Homo sapiens: one gene and its partners. The protein of the gene in region 3 purifies or fractionates together with the protein of the main gene of each other region. This does not show direct contact. Each region holds a gene or a part of one and is shown on either strand. Other genes may lie near its edges. The genes, in order: KLHL26, PAGE5 and PRR15.

What was found.
Region 1: the proteins of PRR15 (region 3) and KLHL26 purify together in Homo sapiens (affinity purification with mass spectrometry; one large-scale study listed by BioGRID and IntAct). This does not show direct contact.
Region 2: the proteins of PRR15 (region 3) and PAGE5 purify together in Homo sapiens (affinity purification with mass spectrometry; one large-scale study listed by BioGRID and IntAct). This does not show direct contact.

What each region holds. Positions count from the first base shown.
Region 1 is NC_000019.10:18,667,963-18,672,296, forward strand, and holds the end of KLHL26 (kelch-like protein 26), read left to right. Parts: coding exon 1-1,283; coding exon of another isoform or gene 1,284-1,312; 3' UTR 1,313-3,759; downstream 3,760-4,334. UniProt on the Homo sapiens protein: May play a role in endo(sarco)plasmic reticulum (ER/SR) mitochondrial signaling. May be part of the ubiquitin-proteasome system (UPS) and affect ubiquitination and degradation of target substrates in cardiomyocytes.
Region 2 is NC_000023.11:55,219,035-55,223,228, reverse strand, and holds the start of PAGE5 (P antigen family member 5), read right to left. Parts: upstream 2,884-4,194; 5' UTR 2,777-2,883; exon of another isoform or gene 2,630-2,776; coding exon of another isoform or gene 2,578-2,629; intron 1,855-2,577; coding exon of another isoform or gene 1,847-1,854; coding exon 1,766-1,846; intron 1,463-1,765; coding exon 1,354-1,462; intron 609-1,353; coding exon 483-608; intron 1-482.
Region 3 is NC_000007.14:29,562,379-29,566,742, reverse strand, and holds the start of PRR15 (proline-rich protein 15), read right to left. Parts: upstream 2,909-4,364; 5' UTR 2,366-2,908; exon of another isoform or gene 2,081-2,365; intron 1,211-2,080; exon of another isoform or gene 990-1,210; intron 559-989; 5' UTR 414-558; coding exon 24-413; 3' UTR 1-23.

The DNA of each region.
Region 1 (4,334 bases), on a different chromosome or scaffold from region 3:
TCCGGCACTTCCTGCAGATCGCCGAGGAGGAGGATTTCCTGCGCCTGCCACTGGAGCGCCTGGTCTTCTTCCTGCAGAGCAACCGGCTGCAGAGCTGTGCCGAGATCGACCTGTTCCGCGCGGCCGTCCGCTGGCTGCAGCATGACCCGGCCCGGCGGCCGCGCGCCAGCCACGTGCTCTGCCACATTCGCTTCCCGCTCATGCAGTCGTCCGAGCTGGTGGACAGCGTGCAGACGCTGGACATCATGGTGGAGGACGTGCTGTGCCGCCAGTATCTGCTGGAGGCCTTCAACTACCAGGTGCTGCCCTTCCGGCAGCACGAGATGCAGTCTCCGCGCACCGCCGTGCGCTCGGATGTGCCCTCGCTCGTCACCTTCGGCGGCACGCCCTACACCGACAGCGACCGCTCGGTCAGCAGCAAGGTCTACCAGCTGCCTGAGCCGGGAGCCCGCCACTTCCGCGAGCTCACGGAGATGGAGGTAGGCTGCAGCCACACGTGCGTGGCCGTGCTGGACAATTTTGTGTACGTGGCCGGGGGGCAGCACCTGCAGTACCGCAGCGGCGAGGGCGCAGTGGACGCCTGCTACCGCTACGACCCCCACCTGAATCGCTGGCTGCGCCTGCAGGCCATGCAGGAAAGCCGCATCCAGTTCCAGCTGAACGTGCTGTGCGGCATGGTGTACGCCACGGGCGGCCGCAACCGAGCCGGCAGCCTGGCCTCCGTGGAGCGGTACTGCCCCCGGCGCAATGAGTGGGGCTACGCCTGCTCGCTGAAGCGCCGTACCTGGGGCCATGCTGGGGCCGCCTCAGGGGGCCGCCTCTACATCTCGGGTGGCTACGGGATCTCAGTGGAGGACAAGAAGGCCCTGCACTGCTACGACCCCGTGGCCGACCAGTGGGAGTTCAAGGCGCCCATGAGCGAACCCCGCGTGCTACACGCCATGGTGGGTGCCGGCGGCCGCATCTATGCCCTCGGGGGCCGCATGGACCACGTGGACCGCTGCTTCGACGTGCTGGCTGTGGAGTACTATGTGCCGGAGACGGACCAGTGGACCAGCGTGAGCCCCATGCGGGCCGGCCAGTCAGAGGCCGGCTGCTGCCTGCTGGAGAGGAAGATCTACATCGTCGGGGGCTACAACTGGCGTCTCAACAACGTCACGGGCATCGTACAGGTGTACAACACGGACACCGACGAGTGGGAGCGGGACCTGCACTTCCCGGAGTCCTTCGCAGGCATAGCCTGCGCCCCCGTCCTGCTGCCCCGGGCCGGGACCAGGAGGTAGCCCCCAAGACCCCCGGGACCCTGGCCTGACCGCATGTTGTCTCCAAGTGGGGCTTGGCGAATGCACGTCTGCCTGAGAACCCCAGTGCCCCCCTTCGCCCGGGCTGCCCTTGAGGGGCCTGCTGCGTTGATAAGCCCCCCTCCCAGGGGTCCCTCCCTCCCTCCTTCCCAAAGCAGATCCTGGCTGCGAGTCCATCCGAGGGAGCCTGCCGGCAAAGCGTCTGACATGTGGTGGCAGCAAATTCGTCCCCGGGGTGGTTTCCTCGCCTGGCCCCCGAGTCCCCACGGGCTGGCGGGTGGAATCCCAGGTCTCCAGGGGGTCCCTGTGCAGCTCCATCTCACTTCTCTACTGCCTCCCAGCCCCACGGTTTCAGGCATTCAGATGTGAGCTCATCAACATTGAACCCAAAGTCGGTGGTATATGACTCACCCTCCTTCCAAGTCTCCTGCGCGCGTGTTTTTAAAATAAACTCACCCGAAACGTCCGTAACACACGGACCTCCAGGAGCAGTGAGAGGTGGCTTAGAAGCCCCTGGTTTGGGGTGGGTGGAGGAGGAGGGCACGTGTCTGCCTCCCCTGGGGTGCCCTCCTTCCCCCATCCCAAGCTGCTGAGGGGAGGCCCTGGTCATGCCTCAGTTCCTGCCTTCATCTGCTTTCCGGAGGAAAAACCATATCAACTCCTAGAAACGCTCCTTAGGGGCTTGGGACCTTCCATTTGGCACTGAGCATCTTGTGGGGCCTTAACTGGCTGAGACATCCCGGCCCTCTACATTTGCCCTGTTGGCCAGGCAGTCCCCTTCCCGCAATTGGAGGGCGACGCTAACTTCAGAATCCCATAGTGGCGCTTGCCGCAGGTCTGGTGGGGTGTCTTTTTTCTCCTCCCTCCTTTCCACCCCTCCGCGCCCTGCCACTCCCTGGCCTGCCCTGTTTTTGGGTCAACATTGCTACGGAGCCAGCAGTGAGGCCTTTCCCTTCAAGGGCTCTGTGGTATCTCTGGCCACATTTGTTCTAATGTCTGAACCTCTAAATCTTTTCTTTTTGATTGGTTTTACTGTTTTTAAGAAGCCAGCACTGCTGTCTCATAGATGGGATTTGTACTCTTGGGGCAACTTAAAGTGTCTCTCTCGCTGCTAACAGACGATTGATGTCTTGTCTCTGTGACCCACTCACCATGTAAAGAATTAACCTCCTATCTTAGCAGACATCGTCTCCTAATATTTCCCTTTATTTAATAAAAATGTTATGGTGAAGAGATGGAGCCGGCCCAGCACTGAGCTTGTGCGGCTTGGGTCTGATTGGTCACAGATTCCTCGTGTGTCCTCCGCGTGTCTGGGGGCTCCTCTCCCCCGCCTCAACCTTTTCCAGCCTTTCAGAGGAGTCGGCAGTGGGCTGGGCTTTGGCTCAGGGGCGCAGAGGCAGCAGGAAGCGTGGCCAGGACTTTCACCCTGGCGTTTTTTGTTGTTGGTTTTTTTGTTTTTTTGAGACGGAGCCTCGCTCTGTCACCCAGGCTGGAGTGCAGTGGCGTGATCTCGGCTCACTGCAACCTCTGCCTCCTGGGTTCAAGCAATTCACCTGCCTCAGCCTCCCAAGTAGCCAGGATTACAGACGCAGACACACACCACCACACCCGGCTAATTTTTGTATTTTTAGTACAGACGGGGTTTCACCATGTTGGCCAGGCTGGCCTTGAACTCTTGACCTCAGGTGATCCACCTGCCTCTGCCTCCCAAAGTGCTGGGATTACAGGTGTGAGCCACCATGCCCGGACCAACCTTGGCACTTTGGAAGAGCCTTCAGCCCCCTATTCTCATCATGGCCGGCCAAACTATGAACTGGGCTGCCCAGAGCAGGCCACTTATCAGTTGCAGGTTAGCAGAGAAAGCCTGATGTTCCCGGACGGCCTTCCCAGAAGGGAGGCCCTGGGATATCACACACACATGGATCTCCATAAGTTGCTGTGCCTGCATGCCTGGCGCTCCTGTGTGGCAGCCATCGGGGCTGGGGTAACACTAGAGGCTGAGGGGGTGGGCAGTGCTAAAATAGGAACATGGTTGGGAACCTAAAAGAAGCCCACACTGTCAGGGGCATCGAGACAAAAGCCGAGTTCCCTGGGGACTTACCAGAACATTCCAGCCCCACCCCCGACCTGAGCTCCCCCAAAGAGAACCCTTCCCCACTGGAGGCATGGCCCCTTCAGGGGAGCAGTGAGAAGCTTTGCCAGCTGCAAGTCCCCTGGATCAGCTCACACCTCAGAACATCTTGTCCCCAGTGAGCTGGCAGGGGCGCCGGCCCAGGGCGGGGGGCGCTGCTGTATCTAACCGGATCGATTGTGCATAACCGTCTAGGCCGGTTCGTGGAATGTTCGTGGGGCCCCCTGCCCCTCCCTCAGCCTCCCCCCGCATCCCCCCAAGAAAGGAAAATTATTTTTCGTATTGTAAACTTTAAACATGAAAAAGCTGTTTTTAATTTAGCAGAAACTGGCTTGAATCTTCACTTTGTGAACGTTTGTGTCCTTCAGAGGCAGAATATGCCTGCGCACACTCGCACATGCTCATGCACACACCTGCACACGCATGCCGCAACACGCACATTCACATGGCCGTGCTCGTGCACGCCTGCACACGCATGCTTGCCCATACCCACGCATTGCAGCGCGTTCACACGCTCACCCGCACACAGTGAAACACAAGCTCACACATATGCACACACACACATATCTGTGCATGCACCCCTGGACCAGCGTAGCCCAATCTGCCTGGCGGCCCAAAGGGGTCTGGAGCCCGGCACCGCCCCGAGCCTGGGGGAAGCCTGTCTACTTCCAGATGCCCTGCCTACTCGCTGAGGCCTGGACGCCGGCTGCAGGAGCCTCCCTTGCACCTGGGCTCAGGCTGTGGGAAAACGCTGTCTCTCGGGACGGTCAGATGCAGGCCCGCAAGAGGGAGGCCAAGTGCGACTTCTGGGGCCTCTCAGCAAGTGAGGGCCAAGGGGGCCTCTGGGGAGCCGTGTGAGGTGGGAATCCGCCCCGGACCTGGCCAGCTTGGAAACCTGCCCC
Region 2 (4,194 bases), on a different chromosome or scaffold from region 3:
TTAGAAAACCTTTTCTTATCTTTCTTTTAAAAATGACACATGAAATCATATATATTTATCATGTAAAACATGATGTTTTAAAATATACATACATTGTAAAACGGCTCAACCTAATTAATATATGCATTATTTCATATAGCTGTGAAGACACTCAAAATCTACTCTCTTAGCATGTTTCATATCTTTCATATCGTAACTCAATTAGCTTTGACCCAATTTATTCTATCTCTTGAAGTTCTGGCCTCAAGTGGTCTTTCTGCCTCGGCTTCCCAAAGTGCTGGAATTAACAGCATGAGCCACCACACCTGGCCTTCTATCTCTGATAGTGTGTAAGGCAGCCATTTGGGGTCTGAACTACCTTCAAAGAATCTTTAGATGTGAAGTATGATATTAAAGTAGCAGTAATTTTACCTCTGTGTCACACAAAATACAATATTGTGAAAATAGAAACCCTATAATTTGCATCTTATTGAATAACATACCTGCTTCCAGCACTTTAGTGGGATCAAAAGTGGGCAGAGTCCCCTCCCTGACATCAGGACCATCTCCAGGTGCATCCTCTATCTTAAGCAGAGCCAGTTCCTGTTGAAAAGCTTCCACATCAGTCCCTTAAAGATAAAAAGTCGTCAATTTACGAATTAAAATATGAACTATGAACGAGGTAATAATATTTATTCCCTCATCATTGTGAAATAAAAACCTGTAGGCTAATTATTTCAGAAGTCTGTTGCCAGAAAAGCAGGAAAGCAGAAATGTTCAAACATTGCCCTTTCCTTTCCCAAGGCTGGCCCTAGACAACTTACTTGTTCCTTTTGTACTCATTTGTTCTTATTCTTATCACATTAAATCAGTGATTTGTTTGAGTCAGTCTGACTAGACTATGAGCTTTAGGCAAAAATTTGGCACTGACATCTCCGGCGCTTAGTATATTACACAGCATGAGGAAGCATTAATAAATGTGTTAAAAAGTATCTTATAAAAATACATGAGAGATGTCCGCAGATGGCAGACTAGGAAGCTGCAAGCTGCCATTCTTCCACAGAAGCATAAAACAAAACAAAACAAAACAAAAAACAGAAAATAGCTGAACAAACCATACAGGAACTCTGGAAAACACTCAAAGGTTTACGGCAACCATGCAAATACCCAATCAATAAAAAGCCTCCGTCAAAATGGTAGGAAAGTTTGTGGCTTTTTATGTGTCCTTGTCCCACCCCTCCGCACAGCAGCAGTAAGAAATGTTTAAGATTCCTTCCTAATGTTTTCTGTCCTCCTGTTACTGGTATGTCACAAAATATAATGCATAAATAGACCTCCACCACCCATAAGCATTATTCTCCACTCTCCCTTCACCTTGAACAGCAGGTGCTCCTTCATTTTTGATCTCCCCACTAGGTGCAATACCCTGATTATCAGTTGGTGGTTCCTCTTCTTGACGTTTTTCCTCAGTGGGCTGCTGGACCTAAGGGTGTAAGTGTGTGTGCGAATAAAAAGTCAATAATATAAACACACAAATGCATATGTGCATCGAATCATAAATCTAAAGACATTTTCCAATAGATATATATATAGAGAGAGAGTAAAATATCCATATCCATAAGGCAACACCAGAATATAATATTCCTGAACCAAAGTTGCCTTCATGAGATGCCATCATCATTTTTTATTAGCATGGAACACCTGTATCAGTGCATGTACACTCGCTCAAAAATATTTTTTAAAATAAAATGTGTTAATAGAAAACATCAAATGCTAAAGGACTCACAATCACAGGTCCAACTGGCTGGGAAGACTCTTGGTCATTTCCTCTTTCTGAGGATTGGGATCTTGTTACATGCTCACTCATATCTCTCACTGAAAACAAAATATTGTTATTTGGAAAAAGTGTGTAAGAACTTAGCTATATATATGAACATTCCATGGCAAAATGGTGATTTGTACTTTTTTAATTTTGAAAATATTTTCAAACTAAGTCACAGAGCATTGATAAGTACGCATGCTTTCCAATCAAACTAAGGACAGATTTGTTTGTATCATAGTCGAAGAGGCACAGAAAACACCTTAACGCCATAGCAAAAGACAGAGGACTTTTCTGAGTTTTGGCTTCACAATTAGACTCTCCATCATTTACACATTTAGGAAAAAAACGGGCAGAAAATTGAAACTGAAGTGACTGCTGCTTTCCTCCCACTCTGATATACTAGGGCCACCACCACCTCCTCCCCACTCCCCGAAAAATCAAGTTTTGTTGGAATGCACAGCCTCAACCATTCCTTTCCATGAGGTCCATGGCTGAGATGAGAAGTTGCGACACAGAGTTAAGGTTATGTTCCTCACTGGACACCTCTGCCAGGCACTCTACAGACCTCGGGGCCGTAGTCACCAGCCCACAGCGTTCCCAGTTTCCTGGCCCCTTCCTTACCACCCACACCATCCCTTCTCGCATCCCTAACGAAGAGTCCAGAAACTGTCCTCCCTCAGAGAGTTCCAGGCGTTTTCGGGACTCAGACACCTCTAACAGCACCCACCCCCAGGACTCGCACCATCTTCAGGCGATCTACCCCCTCCACGGCCTACCTTCCTCCCTCGTTCCAGCCCAGCCACGATTACCGGCCCATGGCGCCTGCATCAGGACCTGGGGGAAGGCGGAGGACCACCGCGAGGCCCTTTTCCCTCAAAGCCACGGACTGTGCCACGGGACCTGTCCTAAGCCCGCTGGCTCCTCCACACATTCACTCACAACTAAATTACCAGGAAGACCACTCTGCAGACCTACCGGCTGAGTCTCGGTCAGTGAGAAAGAACGAAGATGTTGGAAAGAACGAAGATGGCGGAAAGAACGAAGACACAACCTCTCCTTGCAGAGCTCTGCCTAGACAGAAGGTGGGCAGAAAGGCGCATGCGCAGCAACAGATCTGTGCAGCATGCGCACTCAGTGGGGTATTTGCCACGTGACTGAAGGTTTCCTGCCTCTGTGGAGAACCTAAACCACAAGCTCTTCTGACAACGAAAATGAACTTACAAAGCACTTTTCTTTTTCCCCCGCCCAACCTTCCTTTCACTTCCAATGGCGTTGGAGAATATGAGGCCCAGGTTACTCTAAGAAAACAATGTGTTTCGGACAAATTCGCCATCATAGAAATAAATATTATATATGTTAATACCCATTTTATATCTGCTTTCATAAATCATTTTCTTGTGCCTTCGCGAGTCTGCTGTCATGCTTGCAATGATCTTACCCACTCCAATATGATAAGACATTCATAGTTTTTGTTGCATGATTGTACATTCAAAATCATTGATCCGGGCCAGGCGCAGTGGCTCACGCCTGTAATCCCAGCCCTTTGGGAGGCCCAAGCGGGCAGATCACGAGGTCAGTAGATCGAGATCATCCTGGCTAACATGGTGAAACCCCATCTCTACTAAAAATTCAAAAAATTAGCCGGGCATAGTGGCACGCGCCTGTAGTCTCAGCTACTCGGGAGGCTGAGGCTGGATAATTGCTTGAACCCGGGAGGTGGAAGTTGCAGTGAGCCGAGATCGTGCCACTGCACTCCAGCCTGGGCAACAAAGTGAGACCTCATCTCAAAAAAAAAAAAAAAACAAAACAAACAAACAAAAAAAAAATTGATCCATCTGAACAAAATTAAGTGGTAGGGACTCTACATCATTTGTTGAATCCCTGTTTCACCCACTGTTTTGAAGTGGCTCTTTTATCATCACCTACATCCCCACTCAATTTTGTATGTAACTCTCTTATTTTAATTTTCTTCCATTGAGTCGTTTGTACCTGTACCACTAGTATACTATTTTAATTGCTGTAGCTTAATTATATTTGTAATGCGAAATAATGCTTGCCCTCCCTCATTGCTTTTTCCTTTTCTGTCTACTCTGACACATTTGTCTTTCAGATGAACTTCAGAATCATTTGATCAGGTGCTAAAATATTCCAGGTGAGACACTAGGTATTATTTTTAAATTACATCTTAACTTAGGGACAATATCTATCTTTCTATTTTAGAATTTCTCTATCCAAGAAAAAGCCACTCCTCATTTCCTCAAGTCTTTTTATGTATCCCTCACAATGACTGTGTTATTTGCTTCATATTAGTTCTTCACATTCAAATTAAATTTATTATTGGGCATTTTTATTGTTCTATTCCCTTCTGGACAGATGTTTGCTTTCACTTCACT
Region 3 (4,364 bases):
CTGGAGCGCGCAGGCTATTGGGGCTACTGCTTGTCCTCGTGGGGGTCACCAGGAAAGCCTGCCTCCTCCGGGGACCTGCCCGCCTCCGGGAGCAGCGTGGCGCGCACTTTCCTCTTCTCCTTAAAGCGGCCGGAGCGCGAGATCTTCAAATTGCGGCGGCTGCTGCCGGATTTGTCCCCGTATAACTTGTCTGGTTTGGGGGGCTCGCCGGCGCCCCCGAGGAGATTGGGGTGCTGGTTCTCCCGGGAGCTGCTGGTCCAGTCCGGGCTGGGCGGCGCAGGTGGCGTGGGCTCCCCGGGAGCGGGCTGGGCGGGAGGCGGCACCCCCACTGCGGCTTCCTTGCTTTTCTTTCTGCTGTTGGTGAGCGATTTCCACCAGGGGCCGGAGCTGCCAGCATCGCCGCTGTCGGCCATGGCCGGAGGGCCTAGGGGCTCCCGGCACCCAGATGGAAGGGCCAAAGCGGCCCCTTTCTCCACGTGGTCTCCGGCCGTTCACTCCACCCCTTCCCCGGCTTGCCACACGTGGGCTGCGGGGTGGATGCTGAGGCAGCGGCCTGTGCTGGGGAAGAAAACAAAACTTGGTTACTGGGTTGGTTGAAGTCACGTGCCCCCCCCAGTCCCCTTTCCTCCCTTATGCTGTCTGGCACCGGATCGGCCAGGGTCGGAGCGACCCAATCCCGTAGCTACGTAGCCCACATTAGCATTAGACGCCACTGCGCCCCATAGGGTGCTGGCGGAAGTGTCTTCCAGGGCACCATCACCTGGTCTCTAGGCTGAGCCTTGAACTCTTTGGCTTCAACCTTTGCCTTTCCTTCAGGGGAAGTGCAGTGCAGTGGTCAGCGTGCCCGGGGGACCCAAGGGACGTTCCCACCCCTCTGAATCAACCCGTCTCTAGAGGGAAAATGACCGCCCTGTCCACACTGCTTGACTGTAGATGGACGCCAAAAGGTGACCCATCCGACCCAGGGCGGCCTCCCTTTGGATAAGCACCTGGGAGGAGGGCGCTGGGAACCAAGTGCATCCTCTCTACAGGTGAACGGTATTAATTAGTCCATGGTCAAACAGTCACGAAATTTCCCTCCAAGATTTGCCCCCATCGACTTTCGTCCCAGGAGCCTTTTCGATGAGATACTTAGGAGAATTTATATCCCAGTAGGAGAGAAGGACAAGCTTATGATATTTGTTTTGGTTCTTTTAAATTCTACTTTTGACCACTTCTGCCTTGTGACTTTCAAAGAAGCATGTCTAGACTTAACTTCCCTTGAAAACCGCCATCCTAATTCTTCCTTTTACTCCCCAGAGCCCAATCTTGCGTCTGTTTGAAGTCACCCCCGGCTGACGGTTGAGATGAAGCCAAGTATCAAATGGCCTCTTCCCTTAGTTTTGTATTAAAATATGCACCGAGTCTGTACGACGCAACTCAACTCTGGAGAATTTCAGTTACAAAGTAAAGGCTTCTCTTCTTTTCCTTGTGCAATTCCCTCCTCCCAAGGAGAAAGAACGCAACAAGGAACTCCGAAACAATGTGCTTCTTCCCCAAGCTTCTAAGACCCCCCCTCTGCAGAGCGAAAGGCCGCTTCTGAGCACTTAGGTGCGGGTACAGCAAGCGAGACTCCCAGCCCACTTTCTGTGCGGGGTCTCTTGGGCGCTGCCACCAGCAACGGCAGGATTCGCCTGCGCCGCGGCTCACTTCCAGGTTTCCGCTCGGCTCCTTCCCAGCCCACGCGCCGGGCGCTCCTGGGATTGGCGATCGCGCTGGAGAGGGAAACTTCGGCGGTGTTTGTTGTAGGAGGTTCTCCTCCCGGAACCGCCAGGGAGAGGAAGTCTGATCGCCTACGGGAGGCGGCGGGGCGGCCTCGGCTGCGCCCCGAAACCGCAACACCGGCTCCTCCCCAGGATGCCCTGAGGACACACTCGGGCAGCGACTTGAAAACAATACAAGAAAAAACGGCCAAAAGTTCTTTCGGTACAAAAGGCACCCACGCCCTCAGGCACAATTAGCAACTGCGTCTGCAAACATCCCATTCCCTCCTACTTTGCAGATCGGAAAAGCAACCCGTACCCCCAAGTCATTTACTAACAGTGGTGGTAAGGTGTCCTGATGCTGCTTCCTCTCCTCTAACCTACATTTTCTTCTTCACAATCATCAACTTTGTGAGCACGGAAGGGCTTTGTACGAATTGCGCAAGGAAAAGATGGCAAATTACTCAAAAGTACAGAAAACGGAGTCCTGGAGCGTCCGTGGTTTTCAGCCTCTCTTAGGGCTCCGGGAGGCGGGTACCTGGGAGGTACCAGGCAGCACCCCAGGGTGACCCCCGGGGCCAGGCTCTGTCTCGGCGGACGCCGAACCACCCCCAGTCGCTCACCTGCTCGGGCTTAACAGGACCCGGAGGCCTCGCGCGGTGAACGCGGCCGAGAGCACGAAGGGGGCGCGCTCGGGTCAACCTGGAAGCCGGGGCTCGAGTCCCTGGGCGCGGACTTGGAGAGATCAGGCTTCTGGAAAGTGTACAGGTCGGAATTCCCGCAGCCCAGCTAAATCAAGTGCTGCTGCTGGTCTCCTCTGGCACCTCCAATTGCTGCGCGCTGCGGCGGAAGCCCGGGGCTCGCAGCGCAGTCTGTTCTGGTCGGAGGGGGCGGCGGCGAGGGGCCGCCAGACTCGCTGCCCGGGTGGAAGGTCCAGGGCGGCTTTCCGGGCTAGTAGTGTTTCATTCGCCGGCGCGTCCCTCTTCCCTGCTAGCACCGCCCGGGAGCCGGCTGAGAGATGGGACCCTGGCTGTTCACTCCGGCGCATCGAACTTGCCTACGCGTCCGTAGGAACGCAAAAAAGACATCTGCCCACCTGCTGGTTATTTGCCAAGTGATTCGGGAAACCAGAACCCTGGGGCAGCTGGGGGAGAAAAGAAAATAACCCAGGAGGCGGTCACCGCTGCCACAGGTGCAGGTAGGAACTTCGCGTTCCCACCCTCCAGGGGAGGAGATTGGATCAGGCGCCAGCCTTGAGGTGTCTGATTGGAGAAAAGCTGTGCAGTGCCGCTCCCCCGACCGACTCCTTGAGAAGAAACGGCGGAGACCTGAGACCCGGAGGCTGAGGCTGTAGGTGGGCTCCGCTGGGTAAAAGTTGCCGCAGCAGCTGTCCCTTGGCCCCATCGCGATTTATTTTTCCCCCTTGCTTTCCGGGTCCCGGGATCCCAAGTTTGTAACTAACGGGAGCGAATCCACACCCGAGCAAAATGTTTGCGAGTTTCAGGCGCCCTTAGTTGAAAGGCTGTAATTAACAAGTCCGCTGTTTGCCAGCCAGGCGCCGTTGCAGGCGCTTTCTGTGGATTGTCATTTATTTCTCACAGCAACCCTAGGAGGTAGGTATTGTTATTATTATTATTCTCACTCGACAGGCGAGGAAACCCTAGCACGGGAAAATGGTTGCTCAGGTTTGCCTGTCTGGTACGTGGCAGAGCAGGGTTGGAACCCAGGGGGCCTGACTCTAGCTTCTACGGTCTTAACCACCACAACCTGCCAGTCTGAGACTCTTAACACGACTCAGTGAGGATGTGAATTTCCTTCTTTCAGGCCTGGAAGTCCATGGACAGCCACCCAACGAGGGCAGTGTAAATCCAGCCCTGAGCCACTGCAGGAAGTGAACCGGGGATTGCACTCCTGGTCACATAAGAGTACTTTTTTTTTTTTTTTTTTTTTGAGACGGAGTCTCGCTCAGTCGCCGAGGCTGGACTGCAGTGGCGCGATCTCGGCTCACGGCAAGCTCCGCCTCCCGGGTTCACGCCATTCTCCTGCCTCAGCCTCCCGAGTAGCTGGGACTACAGGCGCCCGCCACTGCGCCCGGCTAATTTTTTGTATTTTCAGTAGAGACGGGGTTCCCCGTGTTAGCCAGGATAGTCTCGATCTCCTGACCTCGTGATACGCCCGTCTCGGCCTCCCTCCCAAAGTGCTGGGATTACAGGCGTGAGCCACAGCGCCCGGCCAAGAGTACTTTTTATTCATTTGACATAAAGATATTGGCACAGGGCATTTTCACTAATGAAGGCAGAGGTGCAGCTTGCTTCATCTTCCAGGATGCTCTTGTTTCAAAAAACGATTTTGATGTTCCTTGAGCTCATATGCAAGCATAACTCCCCTGAAGGACTGGGTGTGGAGCAACTGAGCATCTCTGTTGTGAAAACTGTTTGCAGTATAAAAGCAGTGAAAGACAGCCGGGCAAGATGGCTCAAGCCTGTAACCCTAGCGCTTTGGAGGCCGAGGCGGGTGGATCACATGAGACCAGGAGTTTGAGACCAGCCTGGCCAACATGACAAAACCTTGTCTCTACTTAAAAATAATAATAAAAAACAAGGTGGGTGTAGTGGTGCACGC